Regions from separate parts of the Homo sapiens genome. Here region 1 is linked to region 2. A link means that fine-mapping ties the variant in region 2 to the expression of a gene that starts in the linked region. Tissue or cell type: nasal epithelium. Region 2 holds a variant in brackets; the other region holds the start of a gene. All regions are shown on one strand. Distances are between the middles of the regions.

Region 1 (11,929 bases), 21 kb before region 2:
TCTCTACTAAAAATACAAAAAATTAGCCGGGCGCAGTGGCGGGCGCCTGTAGTCCCAGCTACTCGGGAGGCTGAGGCAGGAGAATGGCGTGAACCCGGAAGACGGAGCTTGCAGTGAGCGGAGATCGCGCCACAGCACTCCCGCCTGGGCGACAGAACGAGACTCCGTCTCAAAAAAAAAAAAAAAAAAAAAAAAACTATTTTCCAAAACAAAAAATTTAGTAAGAATGGCATGCTTTTGCATTTCTGTAAATCTCTTTAATTCTGGCTAAACCAAAGATGGCTGGATTCTCATAGCTGCTTCTGCATTCAATCTGTTGCAATAAATTGTTCTAGTTGAAGCATATGAAGAAAACCTGGCATCAAACCAACATTATAACTGTTTCTTTTTGTTTTGTGGAGATGGCTATGTCACCCAGGCTGGTCTTGAACTTGTAAGCTCAAATAATCCTCCCACCTCGGCCTCCCATAGTGCTGGGAGCAACATTATAACTGGAAAAGAGGAGTATTTAGTATTTTCAATTAATATGAGTAGTCTTCTTTGATACTACACCAGAACTCCACAAGTGGCAGTTTTGCAAAGATTAGTTACAATATGAAAGTTAAAACCCTATTAATAAGCCCTTGGTACTCTGTTGCATTAAAATCTGGTTTACCTTGCACTCTGAATGTACCCTTGAATGCACATATGATTTTATTACATCACAAATGGTCATTTGGAAAATATGGGTTCACTGAATTATACAGGTCTACCAAATATTAAAAAACATTCTTTTTTTAAGCACACATTATACAGCATTAAAACTATATGCATTAATATTACCACCAATGTCAGCAGAAACATCTTTTAAGTATTGGGAAAAACCGTCAAGCTCATGATGGAAAAGCAAGCTTTCTAAAATTCTATATTTTGCTTGAAAGCTCCAATTTTTCACTGGCCAGGAATAGTCAGTTGTTTACCTTGGAGTGACAGACTTGCTTTATTCTCATTTAAGTCTCCTAAATACTCAAATATGAATATCCACAGTTCATCACTTGTTCTTTCAGATAAAAATGGAGCTCCATGAGAACACCAGTTTAGCTCACAAATCAACATACAAGTGCTCCTCAAAACCACCATTCTACTCCCCAGTATACAGCTTCACAAGTACTTTCCGTGGTCACAGTACATTAAATAAACAAAGTGTCAAGATTTAATAAAATTAACCTCCTTTTACTGTTTCATCAAAAGCTTTTTAAACTATGAGTGTGCAGTCTTCAAGAAATAAAATGACAGCCGGGCGCCGTGGCTCATGCCTGTAATCCCAGCACTTTGGGAGGCCGAGGTGGGGGGGGATCACGAGGTCAGGAAATCGAGACCATCCTGGCCAACATGGTGAAACCTCGTCTCTACTAAAAATACAAAAATTAGCTGAGCGTGGTGGCGTACACCTGTAGTCCCAGATACTTGGAAGGCTGAGGCAGGAGAATCGCTTGAACCCGGGAGGTGGAGGTTGCAGTGAGCCGAGATCGCTCCACTGCATTCCAGCCCGGCGACAGAGCAAGACTCCGTCAAGAACGGAAGGAAGCAAGGAAGGAAGGAATCAAGCAAGGAAGGAAGGAAGGAAATGACTATATACAATACCGGTTCTCTGCCTTGATTGTTCCTATGATGGATACAGCATTTTCCACCACTGCTTTTGCACCGTTAAGTACAAATGTTGAAAGACAAAACATCTCAATAACATGAAAATAGTTTGAACATTATGTACCCTCTGAAAGATCTCAGTGGTCCCCCTCCCCAAGCATCCACAGATCCCGCTCTGGGAAGCACAGACCATCCACCAGCAGGTACCAGTTCTGCTTGTTATGGCGATGTAAAACTACTACAATTCCCTCTTTTTTGTGCAGCCCCCGAAAACATTTTTGCTATTGTCTCGCCTAAACCTTGCAGTAACTCTTTTTGGTAACTTTGACAACATTCTATGCATGTGGCATAAATGCTACTGATACTGGTTACTCTCCTTCACACCTTTTTATCATATGTGTGATACTCAGAACTGAGCTGATGCCAAAAATATCTGACCAACACAGAGTAGGGCAGAAATACATCTAGTTTCCATAAGGGCATCACACTTTTCGTTAATGCCGTGGTTCTCAACCAGATTTTGCACCCCAGGGCACATCTGGTAATATCTGGAGACATTTTTGATTGTCATTACTGGGGAAATGGAGGGGTGGAGCTCCCGGAATCCAGTAGGTGGAAGCTAAGGCTGCTGTTAAACTACAATACACAGGACAGGCACCTGCAAGGAATGAATCTGGCATAAATGTCAATAATGACTAGGTGAGAAACTGTTTAATGGATCCAAAGACTATCAAAACTTTCAGAAGCTTCACCACCATGACTCTTAAATCAGACTATAATCTTTCCAAAAGTATGTTTGTAGCTACATATGAAATTTAGACAAAATATGGACACTTGATCAAAATGTTCTGTAATATCCTAAATTTCGATAATTTTGATTTAAATTCATTCCGACAACTCACCTAGGGTCCATGCCCCAATGCCACTCACCCATCCAAATTTAACATTAGGACAGGTATACCAAAAATGAAAGCCAAACACAATATAGCCGGGAAATCACAATCCAACACATCAAAAAAACAACATTTATGACAGTGTGACAGCAGTACATGAAAAACAAAGCAACTTAATGAGGAAGAAGCCCTATTTTTCTTTAACTAGGCATTCTTTGGTCTCTCTATTGTTTACTACAGTAATTATCGTATACTTACTTTTTGAGTCTCGCTCTGTCACCCAGGCTGGAACGCAGTGGCATGATCAAGGCTCACTGCAGCCTCAGCCTCCTGGGCTCAAGCAGTCCTCCCACCTCAACCTCCCAAGTAGCTGGGATTACAGGCATGAGCCACCACGCCCAGCTAACTTGTGTTTTTTGTTGAGATGAAGTTTCGCCATGTTGCCCAGGCTGATCTCAAACTCCTGGCCTCAAGCGATTTACCTGCCTGGGCCTCCCAAAGTGCTGGGATTACAGGCGTGAACCACCGCGCCTGGCCCCGTCTTCCATTTTACACACTTGAACTAACTCGCGAAGAATTTGAAATACCTAAGGTCTTTCACAGAAATGTATACCTTCCCTCTTCAAAGAATGTTGGGGGAAAGTAGGTATAAAAGTACTTTTAATTCCTAGAAATAAGACACAAATTACTTAATGTTATTTCTTCATTGAAGCCTTTTAAGGTTTACATCTATCATTTTTAATGCTGGTATGATTATCAGAAAAAGAAGTCCCTTTTCAAAGACAGCAAAATGTTAACTTAATAACGCAGTCATCACGACATCACTGCAAACATTTATCTCCTATTGAACTGAGAAACACCACAACAATCTTGCTTAGACTCAGTTCTCCTAGGGTCTCTTATTCTATGAAAGGGAAAAATCAATAAACAGAAACCATGCAGATTCCAAGATTTTAGACCTGTATAGTTAGTTAAGTCTAACAAACGTTTTCATCACAGAAGTAATGTGATAGACTTCTTAATAACCTAAGGGGGTGGGTGGGAGCCATGGAAAATCCTTTTAAAATACATAAATTGCGATAGAAGTCATTAAGGTCTGTGCCAAAGTTAGAGTCTCACCTGTAAAGAAACACATTCACACACATATATAATTGTAAAACTACAATCGGTGATTATGTGCTAAAGAAATTATCCTTACTTACAAAAAAAAAATAGACCTGAGTTACTACATTCGATGTCTAGAAACCACAAAAATCTTTATCCTGAATTTAACCAAAACTTTGAGTGTCAATTACATGTTGCGTTTTGAGGCTACTAAGATGAAGAAAACTCGGTCCCTGGTCTCAAAGAGGCACTCTTACGCTTCAATATTCAAAAATGGAAGAAATGCAGTCTCACTATTTAGGCCTCTACAATGCTGTATATTTGCAGGAAAAAAAAAATCCGTAATCTACTGGCAATGAGCTGCCAAATTATATCTCATTATCAGAAAGGGGGAGGGGAGAAAAAAACTTTTTAAAAACCCACCAAGAAAAGAAAAAGGCGCAGTGGCATTAGAAAGCATAAAGAGACTAGCTTCAAGCCTTACAACCAGGAAAAAAAAAGTATCACCAGAGATAGAGAAAGAAGGAAACAGAATGAAACCTGGTTACCCCATCAAAACAAAACAGGGAAAGCAATACATAAGTCGTTTTGGAGGAGGGCACCCTGTGAAGTGCCCCCTTCTCCGACCGCCTGTGAATGCTAGGGAGGCGGAGGTGGAGGCAGGCGGACTCAACGCTCAAAGCTGGGCTTTTAACTCGTGCTCCTACATTCAGACAAGGTCAGTGGAAAGGGGCTAACTCCGGCGCACAAGACAGGCATCTGGAAATGGGAGGAAGAGAGTGAGCAAACTGAGACAGACCAGGAACAGAAAAGCAACATCGAATGGGCCCGAGGGGCGCCGAGAGCGAGCCCGAACCCCAAGTGCTGATCCCGCGTGCAGCAGGGTCGTGGTTCCCCACCACCAGGCAATGTTTTGTTTTCGGGTTGTTTTGATTTTCTTTGTGGACGGGGCGGAGAAGCTGGAGTGGCCGGGCGAGTTAGAGGTTCCGCCAGCAATTCCGGAAGGGGAAGGCCCCCGGCCCGACGGCAGCTGACCCAGCCAGGAAGGGTCGGGGGACGCGGGAACCCAGCACACGGGGGGAAGTGCGGCGGCGAGCGAGCGAGGAAACAGGAAGGTCCCCAGTCCTGCCTGCCTCCTACCAGCGGGGAGGGTCGGGCTCGCGTGCCACCCTCTCCGCCTACCTCTTCCCCTTCCCGGACGCCCCCCAAGGCCCAGCCGGCGAGCGAAAGAAAACAGAATACAAATTACTTACAACGGCATCGTCTCCGGCGCCGGCACCGCCCAGTCACTTCCCCCCCGCAACCGCCGCCGCTGCCGCCCTGGGCATGATCCACTGAGGCGGGAGGGAGGGGGGGGCCTGCCTCAGCCCTGGGTCCAACCCCTCTCCCGCACCGCTCCCGCCGCTTTAAGCGCTTCTCCTCCTTCCCCTTCGTCCTAACATGGCGCCCGAGCGCTACCACAGCAACGTTCTAGAACTGCTGACGCCACCACGCACGCCGTGCGTGCGCCTGCGCACCAGCGCCGTCCGCCGCGAAGCCTCACGGGAAGCGGAGTTCCTAAGGCCGCCTGCGGCCCGGCAATTACCCCCTGGGTCCTCTCACACTTAGCAGTGGGTGTCAGATGGTGGAAGGGAACGCTCAGGGAGGCCCCGGGCGGTGAGTTGTCCCTCGGGCGGGGACGCCCTCGTGGGCAGTGCGGCGTGGACGGCGCAAGGAAGAACCCGGAGAGATCCCAAGCCACGAGGCACCGCTTCCGGCGCATTGTGAGGTCCCACCTTTCCCGCCGCCTGAGGTCGCGGCGGCTGCTCTTTCCCGGAGCAGCGTCCCTGGAGGCGCTGCCAGGGGGTGAGGCACCCACGCGTGCACCGTATGTACCCCCCAGCGCGGCGCTTAGAACGACTCGCATGAGTCGCTGCCTTGGGTTGGAACCGGTTACTCCGCCGCTTCGTACTGGACTGCAAAGTAACAAGTACTTCGCCGGGCAGCGGTGCCGACCCCGTGTGCTACGGCGAGAGGTGCTTAGCCTAGAGCCGACGAAAACATGTCCCCAGGACTCCCTTTCCCTCCCAGACTGCGTCCCACCAGATGGAGCTTTCCGTCTGTTTTAACCACCAGTGTATTCCTGATGCCTGACCCAGGCGCTGAAATATTTGTTGAACGAATAAATGTGTAGGTTAGGACTGACGACAGTCCGCGAATTCTGGAACACGGGCTGATTTTACTTTTGAACAAATGATGCACTGGAACTTCCTGACAGAGCTGACCTTTTATAGGAACATCAATGGCAGTCACCGCTGGCATTTTAGCAAAGGTTGTCTTGGTCATAATTTCCCCTTGACTGTGTTTCCAGCCCTTAATCTATATCGGGTGGGACCTGGAAGTCTACCTTCTCGCCACCCCTCGGCAAAAGTTTGAGAAAGTGTTTGAGGCAGAGCCTCCTCTCTCATATGCCCTCCATCTGCGAATTAGAACGAATTATAAGTTCTACGGTGTCACATAGGGGGTTAGCGGAGAGGAAGAGGGAAAGAATCAAATACAGGACGCTGCCTTAACCAAAGTTCTAAACTCTAAATGTAATAATGTGCATTTGTGAGTCCTCAGGAAGTTTCACAAAGGCTTTCCCTTTTTTCACAGAATGTCTAGTAGGACTGGTGACTCCGAATGGGAAAAACACAGGACCTAGACCTGCCCTGTCCATTAGTGTAGCCCCTTGGCCACTTAGGGCCACTGAGCACTTGAAATGAGGCTAGTTCGTTTAGGAGGCACTGGAAGTGCAAAATACGCACGGGTGTCAGTTCGACGAATGTGAAATACCTCACTGATCACTTTTTATATTGATTGCACGTTGAAATATTTTGGATATATTGCAGTAAAGAAAATGTAAGCCGGGCACGGTGTCTCACACCTGTGATCCAGCACTTTAGGAGGCTGAGGTGGGAGGATCGCTTGGGCAGGAGTTAGAGACCAGCCTGGGCAATATAGGGAAACCCCCGTCTATACAAAAAGTTAAAAAAAAAAAAAAAAAAAGAAAAAAGAAAAAAAAATTAGCTGGGCATGGTAGTTCCTGCCTGTGGTCCCAGTTACTCCGGAGACTGAGGTAGGAGGATCCCTGGAGTGGGAGGTGGAGGCTGCCGTGAGTCGTCATCTCACTACTGCACTCCAGCCTGCGTTGACAGAACGAGATCCTGTCTCAAAAAAAAAAAAAAGAAAATATACTATTAAAATTAATTTTACCTGTTTTTTTAAATGTGACCACTAGAAAATTTTAAGTTATATATGTGGCCTTCATTTCCATTAAATAGTGCTGATCTGCAAACAGACTTATATTTGATTGTCATTTCTTCCATTTAGTCTCTTTTCCTCTTGTCATCAAGGTGGCTTTGGCTGGAGACCCAGTAGCATAGTTGTCCCTAAAAGACTGAAAATCTGAGATCCAGATAATTCAATAATGTATTAAGGCTATGGACTTCAAAGCAGCTTGTAAAGATATGCCCTGGGGCCTGGCACAGTGGCTCACTCACACCTGTAATCCCAGCACTTTGGGAGGCAGAGGATTCCTTGAGCTCGGGAGTTCTAGGCCACCCTGGGCAACGTGGCAAGTCGTTGTCTCTACTAAAAAAAAAAATCAAAAAAATTAGCTGGCCTTGGTGGCACACACCTGTAGTCCCAGCTACTTGGGAGGCTGAGGTTGGGAGGATCACCTGAGGCAAGGAAGTTGAGACTGCAGTGAGCCCTGATCATGCCATTGCACTCTAGCTTGGCAACAGAGCAAGACATTGTTCAAAAAAAAAAAAAAAAAATGCACTAACGATGTACTTTATGAATAAAAGAATGGGGACTTTTTCAGCTTATGTTGTCCTCTGCCAGGCATCTCAGAAGGCAGTGAAGAGAGGGACGCTAAACATCCATGCTTTTGGTCTATAATTGCTTCAAACTATTTTTGTTTCAGCCTTCCATAGAATGAGGCAGCTAGATAGCACAGCTGATGAATATTTAGTACCTAGAATGTGCTAGATATCACGCTACTTGCCTAAGGCATTTAAAAGGAACAATATTGAGGATTGAGGATGGAGTCAAGGTAGACTTCATGTAAGAGGTCACTTCAGACACGTCCTGATATGTTAGGGTTTGGTAAGTGGACAGAAGGAGTAGAAGGGCATCTCAGGTAAAGAGAACAATTTTTAAAAATAAAATGAGGCCGGGCGCAGTGGCTCACGCCTGTAATCCCAACACTTTGGGAGGCTGAGGTTGGAAGATCACTTGAGGTCAGGAGTTGGAGATCAGCCTGGCAAACATGTTGAAACCCCATCTCTACTAAAAATACAAAAATTAGTCGGGCATAGTGGTGGGCGCCTGTAATCCCAGCTACTCAAAAGCTGAGGCAGGAGAATCGCTTGAACCCAGGAGGCACATGTTGCAGTGGACCAAGATTGTGCCATTGCACTCCAGCCCGGGCAACAAGACCAAAACTCTGCCTCAGAAATAAATAAATAAATAAATAAAAATTAAAACGTGCAAATAATTTATTTGGAGAAAGGGAAACTTTTGAAGTGACTAAACCACAAAATATTTAGTGAGGAGTGGTGAAAATAAAGCTGCAAAGTTAAGTGAGAGGCAGAAGATAAGGGGCATAGTGGTGCACACCTGTGTCCTCTATTCTGAAGGCTGCGGTGGGAGAATCACCTGAGCCCAGGAAGTCAAGGCTGTAGTGAGCCAAGATCATGCCACTGCGCTCCAGCCTGGGTGACAGAATGAGACCATGTCTCAAAAATAAAGGAAGTAGGGGGAGATGGGAGATCATATAATGACTCCATAAACAGACAAAGGAATTATAGATGGTGATAAGCGGCATTAATAAACCAGGCATTAGAGTTGTGGTGGAGGCCAACTTCAGATAGAGAAGGCTTTTCAGAGGAACTGACCTTTGAGCTGAGACCTGAAGTTAATTCTGAGCGATTTTGAATTTTTGTTTTTGTGAATGGAGGAGCCATTGAAAGTTTTAAAACAGGAGTTAGGTTACATTTATATTTTTGGAAAGATGACTGAAAGTGTAAGGAATGAATTTGAACTAGGAGAGGTTTTGAAGCTGGAAGATGGGTGAGGCGGCTCTTGCAATCCTTCAGATGAGAAATGAAGTTTGAAATAAGGAAGAGAAAGCCGGGCGCGGTGGCTCAAGCCTGTAATCCCAGCACTTTGGGAGGCCGAGGCGGGTGGATCACGAGGTCAGGAGACTGAGACCATCCTGGCTAATCCGGTGAAACCTCGTCTCTACTAAAAATACAAAAAAATTAGTCGGGCGTGGTGGCGGGCGCCTATAATCCCAGCTACTCATGAGGCTGAGGTAGGAGAATGGCGTGAACCCGGGAGGCGGAGCTTGCAGTGAGCTGAGATCGCGCCACTGCACTCCAGCCTGGGCGACAGAGCCAGACTCCGTCTCAAAAAAAAAAAAAAAAAAAAAGAAGAAGAAATAAGGAAGAGAAGAAGGGAGCAATCTGAGAAAGATTTAGAAGGCATAGTTAATTCTGGATGGGAGAGGTGATGGAGAGGAAGAAGACCAAAATGATTTCGGAGGTTCTGAGTGGGGGCGGGTGACAGTGATTGGAGCTACTGATAAATGAAATAGGAAATAGAGGAGGATAACTGGGTGAGTGGATGAGATCGGGAGAGTAGTAGCTATGTGTTGATTTTGAACTGCCTGTGGGACATTCAGAAATGTCTATGAGGCAGTTGAAAATATGCTTCCGGAGCTAAGAAGAGAAATTTGGGCTGGAAACATTATAAACTCTGAAAACAAGAATCATGGCTTGGAATCATGTTTTGGCTCTGGAAGGACCTTATATACACCCAGCGACTACTCCAACTCAAATTTCATGAATGAGTAATAATCTAGATGCTCACAGATCATATTTAGGACCCAGTTAAGAGTAAAACTCTAGCCAAGGAAAGTGAAGAGTAAGAGAAGACCAATTAATAGTATATTGGTAACAGTCTACTGTTACCCTTGCCTTGCTTGTCCTGAGTCCTGCCCACACCTCCCTCCAGCTGCTGCTGGTCTCCGTGACTATTGCCCCATCACCTAGTGCCTGTTTTCTTGTGGCTGCGGAGAAGGGGGAAGATGTGTTCTACTGGAATTTTAAGTATAGTAGTCTCTCTGTACCCCCAGGGGATACCTTCAGAGAGTCCCAGCACATGCCTGAAACTGAGGGTAGTGCCAAACCCTATATTTACTATGTTTTTTTCCTACGCATATGTACCTATGATAAAGTTTAATTTATAAATTAGGCACAGTGAGAGGTAAACAGCAACAATAATAAAATAGAACAATTACAACAATATGCCAGCATGACTACTCTTGCACTTTGGAGCCATTATTAAGTAAAATAAGAGTGACTTGAAAACAGGCACTGTAATATTTGACAGTTGATCCGATCACGGAGAGGGCTGCTGAGTGACTAACTGGTGGGCAGTGTATACAGTGTGGAAACACCAGACGAAGGGCTGATTCATGTCCACCTGAGCAAGAAGGTGCAAGATTTTATGACACTACTCAGAATGGTATGGTATTTTAAACTTATGAGTTGTTTATTTCTAACATTTTTCATTTACTATTTTCAGACCACGGTTGACCACAGGTAATCAAAACAGGAAAGAGAAACCCCAGATAACGGGGGACTACATTTTCCACAGAACAGTGTCATAAATAGTGGAAAGAATTTCAAAACTGGTTCCCAGAAGCCCACAGTGTATTCAAACAAACAAACAAAAAATGCTTGAAAATGTTTTTGAGAACAGAAGCTCTTCATATATTGGGAACTACATGGATTGTATTTTGCTGTCATTTAGGAGTAGTCGTAGGAGATACTGTGTGACACAGAGATTTTTATCCCAGTAGTGAACTCTGATGATCCACTGGGCCAATACTTTTCAAAAAATCAAAGATCAGACTTATTAATTACTAAAATAAAAATAATAATACAAGCATTTTTATCCAATGAGTGCTATACTCTTGAGCAGTCCTTTCATTAAATTCATTTCCCCTTTTTTTAATATATCTATTTATTTTTTGAGACAAAGTCTTACATTCTGTCACCCAGGCTGGAGTGCAGTGCTGTGATTACAGCTCATTGTAGCCTCCCTCTCCCAGGCTCAACTGATCCTCCGGCCCCAGCCTCCCAAGTAGCTGGAACTACAGGTGCATGCCACCACGCCCAGCTAATTTTTTTTTTATTATTTTTAATGCAGAGGAGGTCCCAGCTACATCACCCGGGCTGGTCTGGAATCCCTGGCCTCAGGCGATTCTCCTGCCTCGTCCTCCCAAAGTGCTGGAATTACAGGAATGAGCCACCACATCCAGCCATTTTATTATTTTGACTTTCACATTTAATTCTATGCTCCACTTCAAAATAGTTTCATGTGCAGTATGAGGTAGAGGTCAAGGCTTGGCTTTGTTTTTAATATGTGGATCTCTAGTTGATGGCCATGCACCATTTATTTAAAAGATCATACTTTCTTATCGAATTGCCATGGCACCTTTGCTCTAAGTCAGGTGACTATAAATGTGTGGGTCCATTTCTAGGTTCCTGATTCTGCTCCATTGATCTATGTGTCTGTTCTAATCACTGTAGCTTTGTAATAAGTCTTGATATCTGGAGAGTGTAAGTCCTCTAGGTTTGTTCTTCAAAATTGTTTTGATTATTCTAGGTCCTTTGCATTGCCATATACATTTTAGAACCAGATTACTGGTTTTCTTTTCTTTTCTTCTTCTTTTTTTTTTTTTTTTTTTTTTTTTTTTGAGACGGAGTTTCGCTCTTGTTGCCCAGGCTGGAGTGCAATGGCGCAATCTCGGCTCACCACAACTTCCACCTCCCGGGTTCAAGCGATTCTCCTGCCTCAGCCTCCCGAGTAGCTGGGATTACAGGCATGCGTCACCACACCCGGTTAATTTTGTATTTTTAGCAGAGACAGGGTTTTTCCATGTTGGTCAGGCGGGTCTTGAGTTCCTGACCTCAGGTGATCCGCCCGCCTCAGCCTCCCAAAGTGCTGGGATTACAGGCATGAGCCACCGCACCTGGCCCAGATTACTGATTTTCATCCCCCCAAAAAATAAAGTGAGAAGGAAGCAAGCAAAGATGGAAGGAAAGAGGGAAGGAAGGAAGGAAGGAAGGAAGGAGTAGGGAGGGAGGGAGGGAGTGAACGAAAGAGAGGGAAAAAGATACTGGGATTCTGATAGGAGTTACATTGATTCTATAGATCATTTTGGGGAAGAATTGAAGTATTAACAATATTGGGCTTTATAAAGTATTAAT
Region 2 (11,929 bases):
CATCCAGCCAGCTCCTGGCCATAGATTCTAATTAAGGATCAGCACAACATCAAAATTGGTTACAATTTACAATACCTAAATTGTAAACAGTACGAGTACAAATACATGACTAATAATAACTTGTAAATTGTTGACTTGTCTTTTTAAAAAATTCTAGTTAAAGATCAGCACATCAAGTGCCCTGCCATGCATGGTAGGTGCACCTAAGAATGAAGCCTCCCATGCAAGGCAGGACAGAGAGGGGGATCCTAAGTCTTTGGTGACATCATTTGAGCCACTATATCAAGCCTCACCTGAAGCCAGCCCTACCCCTGGACTTTTCTGGTTTTCTTTATGGTGAAGTCATTTTGAGTTTGCTTTTCTATCACTTGCAAGATAAAGAGTCCTAGCTGGGCTGGGCGCGGTGGCTCACGCCTGTAATCCCAGCACTTTGGGAGGCCGAGGCGGGTGGATCACGAGGTCAGGAGATCGAGACCACGGTGAAACCCCGTCTCTACTAAAAATACAAAAAAATTAACCGGGCGCGGTGGCGGGCACCTGTAGTCCCAGCTACTCAGGAGGCTGAGGCAGGAGAATGGCGTGAACCGGGGAGGCGGAGCTTGCAGTGAGCCGAGATCGTAACACTGCACTCCAGCCTGGGCGACAGAGCAAGACTCCGTCTCAAAAAAAAAAAAAAAAAAAGTCCTAGCTGATATTTGTTTGAAAGGAGGTCTTTCTTAGCAAGATTGCCAACCCAGAGATCAAAATGGGAAACAGGTGGGTGAATTTGAGTACATATAAACATGAAACTTTTGTGTGGTCAGAGAAAATACCATAAATAATGTTAAAAAATAAATCATGAATTAAGAAAAACTGCAATACATTATTAAAAAGTTAAGATGTGATGAGGATACTATGTGATGCACACTACTTGCCAGGCACGTGCATAGTTTACGTATATTACCTCTTTAGTCACCACAATGACTGTATGAAGTAGGTGCTATCATTATCCCCACTTTACAGATGGAGAAACTGAGACACAGACAGGAGCTTGCACAAGGCCACATACCTACAGAGAGAGTGGAGTGGGATTTGATCTCTAGCAGCACGACTTGGGAGGCCAACTGGAGCCGTTCCTGTTTCTATTGAACTAGTTTATCAGGAGTTCTTTTTGCAAAATAATAAGAAAAAGTCACACAGCCCAAACAGGGGCAAAGAAAATACGCAACATGAGAAGAAACATAAATGCTTAACAAACAGAAAAAGCTGTAAGATTAGTGATCAGAGAAATGAATATTAAAACAATGAGAACAGTTTTTATCAGCCTGACATGTGCGAGTAAAATTGAGAAAGCAGGTTTAGAGAAGGTGTAGGGAAATAGCCACCTGTTAGATGATACATAAACTGGTTTACCATTGCTGGAGGGCAGTTTTTAAATATGTATCAAAACTCAAACCATGTCTAGTTTGACCCAGCAAACTTTAGGAATTTATGTTAAGAAGATTAATCAGGCACCCAAAGATGTGTGCATTGGGCCTGCCTCCCTCCCTCCATCCCTCCTTTCTTCCTTCCTTTCTCCCTTCTTTCCTTCCTTCTTTCCATTTGTTGAGTGCCTGTTATGTGCCAGGCACTATTCTAGGCACTGGATATATGGTAGTGAACAACACAGACATCCCTGTCCTCATGTAACTTAAGTTCTGTGCAGAGAAAAGGCAAGAAACAAGATAAATACATAAAATGTATATAATAGGTAGAGTAAGTACAAAGAGGAAAATTAAAAAGTATAAAAGGGGATGTGACAGGTTGTGGGGAGGGGTAGACATTGAATTTTACAGAGACCAGGAAATGCCTCACTAGAAAGACAACTTCTGGTAAAGATGCCAGGTGTCTGTGAGGCAATGAGTCATGCAGATGACCAAGACCACCATTGGTGCACTGTTTGAAATTGGGAAATATCAGAAGCAGCCAGGTCACAAAGGACCTTGACCACAATGACAAGTTTGGATTTTTATCAAATTGTGATAATTGAGAGCCTGTGAGGAGTTGTAAGCAGAGAATGGCCATAGTGGGTCTGCAGTTTGGAAGGATCACCTGGCAGCTGCGTAGGAACAGACTGGAGATGGAGCAGGGTGGAGTTGGGGAGGACAGTGAGAAGACACTGCGTAATTCGGATGAGAAACACTGCCCCTGATCAGAAGTAGAGAGCTTGGGACAGATTTGGGTGCCATTTTTGGTGATGGTGGTGTTTGTTTTTTGAGACAGGGTCTCACTCTGTCATCCAGGCTGGAGTGCTGTGGCATCATCATAGCTCATGGCAGCCTCAGTCTCCCAGGATCAAACAATCCTCCAGGCTTAAGCAATCCTCCCACCTTAGCCTCCCTAGTAGTTGGGGCTACAGGCATGCCACTATGCCCAGCTAATTTTTATTTAGTAGAGTCAAGGTCTTGCTATGTTGCCCAGGCTGGTCTTGAATACCTAAGCTCAAATGATTCTCCAGCCTCACCCTCCCAAAGTGCTGGGATTACAGGTATGAACCACCATGCCCAGCCTAAGAGTGCTATTTTTGGAAGCAGAATCACTTACTAGATTCAGTGATTTGGGGAATGAGGAGGGGTGGAAAGAAGCTGACCACCTGGGTAGGTTAGATGGGTAAATGGAGGAAAATCAAATCAAATCATGAGGTCAATGCATAGTAAAATGTTACACATTTACAGGAATTTGTATTACTAATACACCTGCTAATGGCTAGTTTTTGTTACTAATACTAAGCAAGCTGGGCATGGTGGCTCATGCCTATAATCCCAGCACTTTGGGAGGCAGAAGCGGGTGGATCACTTGAGATTAGGAGTTTGAGATCAGCCTGGCTGGCCAACATGGTGAAACCCCATTTCTACTAAAAACAGAAAAATGAGCTGGGCTTGGTGGTGCACACCTGTAGTCCCAGCCACTGGGGAGGCTGAGACAGGAGGATCACTTGAACCCGGGAGGCAGAGGTTGCAGTAAGCCAAGATTGCACCACTGCACTCCAGCCTGGGCGACAGAGCCAGACCCTGTCTCAAACAAAAAGAAAAAGAAAAAAAAAAAAACTAAGCAAAAGACCATGGATATCCTTTTTTAAATGGTACAAATGACAAAAAGCAAACACAAATTTGTTTAGGGTATTTCCATGACATTTCCCTAGAGCAGGATGGGAAGTGGAACTGGCCTAAATGGCTTTGCCAGGCACCGCACCCCTGTTCCACAGATACACAGACTCACAAACACACTCACCACTCACCCACTCCTCCCAGCGAGCTATCTTCTCTGCCATCTCCACGGCCTCCTGGTGCTCGCGTTCTGCTTCCTCAGCAGCCTCCCTGGCCAGCCGCTCCTCCGCAGCCTTCCGCTCCTCTTCTGCCTTTTCTTCGTCTGTTAAACCATAATTTCGAGGCTCCCCAATCTCTTTGATGAGCTGTTTGATAGCAAGTCTATTCTGAGCATCTTCAAGTTTTCCTACATCTTTAAATACCAGGAGAGAGATCAACACATACTTATATTCTAGGCCTGCCTGCAATTGGGAAAATTCTTTATTACTATAAACTTGCGATAGTCAATTATGTAAATTACCACATAGGGTTTTCTTTTCTAATTGCCAGCATAGTTCAGAATTTCTTCTCTCACGGGCAAATATCAGACCAGAGTCTGAGGGCTGTGGGTAGGAAAATTTGGACTTGGGTCTATGAGTTCTAACAATGACTTGATTTGAGTGGTTGAATGGGGGAATGGATTGCCTGAAAAGTAATGAGCTCTCCATGCCTGGAAGTATTCAAGCAAAGACTGGGACACTTCTTTCAGAGGTTTCTACAGAAGGAAGTCCTGCACTTGTGGGAGGCCAAACAGGGTGACCTTTCTGAAAATCAATGATACTGGGATACATTTTCAATTCATAAAAAAATAACCATTTCAGTGAGTCTACTTGAATAGGAAAAATATCCAGACTCCAGAATATCTGAAAAATGTTAGTATCAAGACCAAAGAGAAGAAAAAGAGAAATGGTGTATTGATAAATACTGAGATCTCCACGGTCACTGAGGTGGTAAATTCTATGCCACTCTCTTAGGGCTGCTTGGAAGGTGTCTGCAGAGAACGATGTGCAGCAGACACATTTTGGTACTAAGCCCCTTCAGACCTTCCTCTGGGTAGCTGCTTACCCCACGCCCATTCATAGTCACTGCTGTGCCCACCCCTCCCATGTTTGTTTTTTATTGTTTTGTTTTGTTTTTATAGAGACAGGGTCTCCCCATGTTGCCCAGGCTGATCTTGAACTCTTTGGCTCAAGCAGTCCTCCTGCCTTGGCCTCTCATAGTGCTGGGATTACAGGCATGAGCCGCCACCCCTCCCATGTTTGTATGACCTTGACCTAGACCAGAAGCACCACCAAGTTCTAATATGGGAAGAGGGGAGGAGCAGAGCCAGTGCACTGGTTGGTGAACAGAAGCAAACCTTTAAAAAAGCAAAAAACAGCTGGCCATGGTGGCTCACACCTGTAATCTCAGCACTTTGGGAGGCCGAGTAGGTTGAGGTCAGGAGTTCAAGACCAGCCTGGCCAACATGGAGAAACCCCATCTCCACTAAAAATACAAAAATTAGCCTGGTGTGGTGGTGCACACCTGTAGTTCCAGCTACTTGGGAGGCTTAGGCAGGAGGATCACTTGAACCCGGGAAGCAGAGGTTGCATTGAGTTGAGATTGAGCTACTGTACTCCAGCTTGGGTGACAGAGCAAGACTTTGTCTCAAAAAAAAAAAAAAAAAAGGTAAAAGTCATATCGGTAGCTCCTCATTGCCTGACCTGTGACATTTAAATGCATTTCTCACTGGGTGTGGTGGCTCACGCCTGTAATCCCAGAACTTTGGGAGGCCGAGATGGGCAGATTGCTTGAGGCCAGGAGTTTGAGACCAGCCTGGCCAACGTGGTAAAACCCTGTCTCTACCAAAAACACAAAAATTAGCTGGGCATGTGGCATACACCTGTAATCCCAGCTACTTGGGAGGCTGAGGCAGGAGAAACGCTTGAACCCAGGAGGCAGAGGTTGCAGTGAGCCAAGATTGCGCCACTGCACTTCAGCCTGGGTGACAGAGGGAGATTCTGTCTCAAAAAGAATAAATAAAATAAATAAATAAATAAATAAATGCATTTCTCCCTGATTACTCTGAGTAGTTACAACCTTGATATCACTAACTGGACACCTTTGAGAAGGTACTTGGGAATGATTCCCCCTAGCAATATTCCACTCTGACCCCAGAGTGGGGCCACTGCTGATTAGACTGGGGTGGGGCACCTCAGCCCGAACTGTGACCAGCAGAGTTGCCCTTCAGGGAATGTGGGATTGGACACAGTGAAGTCAGCTCTGGCCTTGGCTCCCAGGGTAGCATTGTAACTCTGGGGTGTGGGGTGGCCTCAGCCTACCACACAGGCCACAGAGGGGGAGAGTACACTGGCCCAAAGAAAGAGAGGACAAAGAGACACTGAGAGAGAAGCAGAGTCCAGAGCTGATGAGAGGATGTGATTCCCAGCATCTTTCCAGGGCCCCATTCCAGACATTGCAGAGGCCGGGCTGCATCCCTGGCTGTGAGACGCCCTCCCCATCTCCCATCCTTAGGATACATTTCTCCCTTCTGCTTTTATATTATCTCCCAGTTGTCAGTTGTAGATGAGGCCAAATGAGATGGGCACAGGATGAGATGGAACACAATGGCCACTCATTCATTCCTCCCTGTTACTTATTTTTTTTCTCAACATTTCTCCTGGGCTCTCCTGATCTTCCTATAAACAGTTTTTGGGACCTAACTGAAAAGATGACAATCACTATTTTTCTGAAATGTATTCTCCATTCTTTCCTAGTTCTCTAAATAATGTAAACTAATTTCCATATTAGGAGGTACAGAACCCTTAGCTTTTACATATAAAGCATGTCCAACATGCAGAAACATGTCCAGATGAGGACAAAACCCAGTCACTGCTCTGAGGGTGCAGACAAGAAGAATTTGCAGATTTATAAATTGTTTTTGTATTTCTTTTTTTTTTTTTGAGACAGAGTCTCACTGTCACCCAGGCTGGAGTGCAGTGGCATGATCTCACTTCACTGCAATCTCTGCCTCCTGGGTTCAAATGATTCTCCTGCCTCAGCCTCCTGGGTAGCTGGGATTACAGGTGCACACCACCACGCCCAGCTAATTTGTGTATTTTTAGTAGAGATGGGGTTTCACCATGTTGGCCATGCTGGTCTTGAACTCCTGACCTCAGATGATCCACCCACCTTGGTCTTCCAATGTGTAGGGATTACAGGCGTGAGGCACTGCACCCAGTCATTTTTTTATTTCATAATAGTATGTCATGTTATGCCTTAGTGTTGGTAGGAATAACAAAATGACCACTTGTTGAACTCCTTCAATGTGCCAGGCACTTCGTATCTCTCATCTCTACCGTTTGTAACAATCCTGCAAGCCTGATTATTTTCCTATTTCACAGATGAGAAAACTGAGGCCCAGCCACAATTGGAATTAGCTCTCCTGCCTCCTGCTGACATTATCCCTTAGCACTAAGCCTCCCGATACTCCAGGGCTCAAATGCTGTCCCATTGGGCAGTTGGGGGTAGAGAGCAGCCCCTGGAGGCCCAAGGTGTGGGCCTGGCCAGGAAGCTTCCACCAGGCAGAAGCTGGTTCTTTCTCACCAAGCCCATAGGAGGAATACGTGCGAAGGTCCAGAAAACCAGAAAGGTAGGTCAGGGGTTCAACAAGCCAAGGGAAGTAGCAGCAGCTGTGAAAGCTGAGAACTGGAGCCAGGAATGATAATGGTGACGATGAGGCTGACGTGATGCGGGATCATGAGTGCTTGCTGTGTGCTAAGCTCAGAGCTGTGTTTACAGGAAACAAGAAGGAACGCAGTGAAGAGCTATTTGCTCTTCTGGGTAGCTACGGGGATGGGCTGGCCAGTCAGAAGGCTGGGAAAGGGTCTGGAAGAGCACCAGTGCCCAATAATTTAACAGGGACAGAACACTGCTCCCAAGGAACCTGGGGGAATGGCCCAAGCAGCCAGCACCATACACACATTTCTTTAAAAAAAAAAAAAAAAGAGTTTGTCGGCCAGGCACGGTGGCTCACACCTATAATCCCAGTACTTTGGGAGGCCGAGGCGGGCAGATCACGAGGTCAGGAGATCGAGACCATCCTGGCTAACACAGTGAAACCCCGTCTCTACTAAAAATACAAAAAAATTAGCCGGGC[A/G]CTGTGGTGTGCACCTGTAGTCCCAGCTACTCGGGAGGCTGAGGCAGGAGAATGGCGTGAACCCGGGAGGCGGAGTTTGCAGTGAGCCGAGATGGTGCCACTGCACTCCAGCCTGGGCAATAGAGCAAGACTCCATCTCAAAAAAAAAGAAAAAAAAATTAATCAGGCCTGGTGGCATGTGCCTGTAGTTCCAGCTACTTGGGAGGCTGAGGCAGGAGAATTGCTTGAACCCGGGAAGCAGAGGTTGCAGTGAGCCAAGATTGCACCACTGCACTCCAGCTTGGGCAACTGAGCGAGACTCCATCCCCCCACAAAAAAAAAAAAAAGGATTTGTCATTTGACTTCACAATATATCCATAAATTCTCATACGATAATAACACCCTCCCACCACCAAATCCCCACATAGAATGACTCCCCAGGAGGAGTGCCCTGTGTATTTCATGGCTTCCTGTGCCCCAACCCATGATTACACTCCCCACCCTCCCCCCAGCCCCACAATTACAGCTAGACCTGCACCAAGCTTTGCTGGGGGTCCTGGACATTCACATTATCCTTGAATTCATTTCATACCAATATGTATCGGGTGAATTTCAAGTTCATCAAAATAGTTGAAGACAGTCTCATCGTCGATATTGATGTCCCGGTAGTTGCTCAGAGCCCGGAGGAATCGGTCTTGGCTGTAGTGGGTCCCCGCCACGATGCTCTCAGGAAGGTTTATCACACGCTCCTTCAGAAACTCATCCGAAGCATCCAGTGCACAAACGAATTCTGGGGAGAAGGACAGACTCCAGAGTTGGCACAATACAGCGCAGCTAACTAGCAGGGTGCTGGAGAACGCATGGCCCCCTGGTTACCAGCCAAGACCTCCTGTTGCCACAAATAGCCTGTCCAATTGGCTTTGCTGCCTCTCATGGAGGATAAATAGATGAAAATCACCCCATTTCCAGAGACCACCCTATGAGGCCCAATTAGTATTTTGTGCAATCTATTATTTTCCCTTTCTTCCCCCCTCCCTCTCTTCCTTCCTTCCTCCCTCCCTTCCCCCGCCCTCCCTCTGTCCTTCCTTCCTTCCTTCCTCCCTTTCTAACTAATAAAAGCAGCAGAAATCATAAGTAGCAAATCTCAGATAACCCTGTGATATCAGCTTCCTAGTTAATTTTCACATTGTCTCTTTTCTCTTTTTTAAAAAATACATACTTATATGTATGTATATTTATTTTAGAGAGATACAAGGTCTTACTATGTGCGGGCTGATCTCAAATTCTTGCCTTAAGCAATCCTCCCGCTTTGGCCTCCCAAAGTGCTGGCAGGGATAAGCCACGGCTCCTGGCCTCACGCTGCCTCCTATCCAGCACAATTATCACAGGCTTCCAAAGAGAGCTATGGCTACAAGCAAAATGCTTTGATGGCCAGTTTGCCAAATTAATAAAATGGGAACTCCCCTTGGAATTTTCATGGATCCAGCTCTTTCATCAATGCCATTGGCTATGAAACACTTACGTACAACATGTTATGGTCAGCACTTATCAAATTCAACACACAGATCATGTTAATAATGATGACCATTTTACCCATCTGTGATTTTCTTTTAAACTGTGAAAGCAGCTGTTCCTCCAGCTTCTAGTACAAATTCAATAGATAATTGTTGAGTGAATGAGAGATTTAAGTGTGGATCAGTGAAATAAACTTTCCAAGGTGAGTTGTGATTCTTAGATGTTCTCAACTACAGGAGCAGGGTATACTGGTGCCCAGATCAGTGTCTGGGTGCATCACAAATAGCTTGCTATCTATTAGAGCTCAACAGAACTTGGGAATGATTTGATTTTTGTTCTAAAATTGTATTGGCTTATAACATCATAATGCCATTCTCGTTTACTTGCATTCTAATAAGCTTCCTTGAGTGGGTGAAAAAGGTAAGTGTAATGGGGAAAGCCCACAGGAGGTGTGTCCCCGAGGCATGTGGACATGTGTGAACATCATCTGCTGCAGATGTTAACTGTGAAAACAAAGGCTGAGACAGCGTGTGGAATAAGATCCTATAAATTCATAATAGTTTGATACTACCTCCATTCTGCATACAAGAGGTGTTTTCGCAAGTAAGTTGTTCCTATTTTTTGCTCATCTTTTACCATTTGATTGTCATGATTTTCATGAGTGGCTGCCTTTTGAAAAGGAAGGTAGACATATGAAGCCTCAAATGCTGGTACGGTACTGAAATCAAAAGGATGTCAACAGATTCGCTGAAAATTGAATCCATTTAAGCTCTATGATGTCGGACATCTATATGAAAACTTATTTTCTTTTTAGATTTTTCCCTAACATGATACTCATTTGTTAGAAAATGTATGAACTATGTTAATAATCTATGAATTTCAAAAATATATTCTATCTTTCTTCCAGGCTGATCAGGAGGTGGAAGATTCCAGTTAATCAAATAATGAGTAACATCCTTGGCTTTCCAATTTTCAAAGATTTTTAATATGATAAAATATACTTCTCACTAGATGATTTTTAAAAAAATGTTCATTCTCTTTATGACTCAGAGAACTTCAAGATTCTGCAGTATCTCAAGACAGTTATTCAGAACATCTATTGTCCTTGCACTGGCTAACTGTGGATAGCGAGTAATAGATTTCTGCTTGGTAAGACCGTAGATAACAAGGAGGTCACTGTATTTGGCTATCTGGAATCACATGAAAAATCTATGGTTTTTTTTTTTTTTTTTTTGAGACAAAGTCTCGCTCTTGTCCCCCAGGCTGGAGTGCGGTGGCGCGATCTTGGCTCACTGCAACCTCTGCCTCCCGGGTTCAGGTGATTCTCCTGCCTCAGCCTCCCAAGTAGCTGGGATTATAGGCGTGCACCACCGTGCCTGGCTAATTTTATATTTTTAGTAGAGATGGGGTTTCACCATGTTGGCCAGACTGGTCTTGAACTCCTGACCTCAGGTGATCTGCCCACCTCGGCCTCCCAAATTGCTGGGATTACAGGTGTGAGCCACTGCGCTGGGCTGAAAAAGCTATGTTTTAACAAATTTCCAAATATTAATCAGGTAGGTACAACTTTAAACTTATCTCCTTCAACCAAGAGGTCTTCAAAGAATCAAACTGGACATAGGCTAACAGCAGTGGTAAAATGCAATGGTTGCTCAATGGGAGAGAATACCATCTAGAACTGTATTACCATAGATTGGAATGTGTTTCTTTTATTTTCTGTATCTTATGCTTTGATTTCTTTTTTTTTTTCTTTTTTTTTTTAAGAGACAGGGTCTCACTGTCACCCAGGCTGAAGTGCCGTGGCATGATCAAGGCTCACCACCGCCTTGACCTCCTGGGCTCAAGAGATCCTCCCACTTCAGCCTCCTGAGTAGCTGGGACCACAGGCACATGCCACCACACCCAGCTAATTAAGAATGTTTTTGTGTGTGTGGAGATGGGGGTCTTGCTATATTGCCCATGCTGGTCTCCAACTCCTGGACTCAAGCAATCCTCCTGCCTTAGCCTCCCCAAGTGCTGGAATTGCAGGCGTGAGCCACCACACCTGGTCTGTTTTGACATCTTCAGGGGGGCCTTACAGATCTGGGGAGAGACTGCTGTCCTTCCCAGGCCTAGCCAATACCTAAAGATAGTAACAACTTGCTTGGGAATGCCCCTCCTATGCAAGCCACTCAATCCATTTATCTAATCTCACACAGCAAGCCAGTATTTCCCTTGCCCTAAATCATCCCAGGACCAGGCCCCAGGCAACTAGAGACCACCCGTAAACTCAAACTAGCCAGTCCCGAACGGTTCACTGTGGCCTGTCTTGGCTTTCCCAAAGAAACCCCAACAACGGCATTGATCTAGACCTTTCCCCTTGTTCTTGCTTCTGCCGCCTGACCAAACCTGGCATTCCCCATGTGCCCCCATCTCTAGGGAATCCTAAGTGTAAATTATTTCAATGGCATTGACCTCTCTATGTCACCATTCAGTTCCCTCCCTCAATTAAAATCCTACAAGTACGAATGAAACAATGCCCTACTTTCTTTCAGAGAAATAGAAAATAAAGACAATTTCTGAAAAGTTTGCTAACAACAGATTAACGTTCCAAATAGATTACGTCTTAGACGTGTTTGCACTGTGTCCAACAAAGAATGGAAAGTCCAGTGGCCTACGTTTAAGAGTCCTTGGTCACTTGACCTCTGTGCTTCCATTTCCTTATCTCACAGGCAGGTTTCATTAATTGTTTTGGAGGCAGTGGAGTGAGAAGACCTGAGTTTTAATTTAATCCCCCTACCATTTACTAGTGAGTGGACTTGCATAAATCTCTAGGCTTTAGCTTCTGGATTGGGTAAACATGGGTGTAATTCCTGCCTTGCAGGATTGTGGAAAGGTTCAATGAGTGCCTGGCACATGACAAATTGTGCACGACCAATTGCCAGTTGAACTGAAATGTATCCAGCTGCCTGGATGTTATGGGTGTTATGATTTAGCACAGAGTTTGCAATGAGTGAATATTGCCTAGAAGTGATAAACAAAATGCACTGGACACACCTACCTAGAATTTAATAATCAACAATAAAGTAGATGAACAAACTTTACTTTTTATTTTATTTTTTTAATTAATTTTTTTGAGACCGGTTCTTGCTCTGTTGCCCAGGCTGGAGTGCAGTGGTGTAATCAGGGCACCTGCAGCCTTGACTTCCCACAC

The links.
Region 1: it holds the start of PAPOLA-DT, and the variant in region 2 is fine-mapped to the expression of PAPOLA-DT in nasal epithelium (TOPMed, PIP 0.99).

The regions. Positions count from the first base shown.
Region 1 is chr14:96,495,548-96,507,476 of GRCh38, reverse strand. PAPOLA-DT (PAPOLA divergent transcript) reads left to right here and starts at 5,151. Exons shown (of 1, transcript NR_122121.1): 1 at 5,151-5,829. It overlaps PAPOLA (poly(A) polymerase alpha), which reads right to left and starts at 5,095. Exons shown (of 22, transcript NM_032632.5): 1 at 4,877-5,095. The coding sequence starts at 4,884. RefSeq lists enhancers at 2,446-2,945, 2,946-3,447, 4,603-5,198, 5,022-5,281, 5,199-5,793 and 1 more and silencers at 4,782-4,901, 5,340-5,683.
Region 2 is chr14:96,474,547-96,486,475 of GRCh38, reverse strand. It overlaps AK7 (adenylate kinase 7), which reads right to left. Exons shown (of 18, transcript NM_152327.5): 15 at 7,814-8,011; 16 at 3,257-3,477. Among named protein-coding and RNA genes, the nearest start is that of PAPOLA-DT, 22 kb to the left of the region's middle. The variant A/G (reference allele first, on the strand shown) is at 7,243.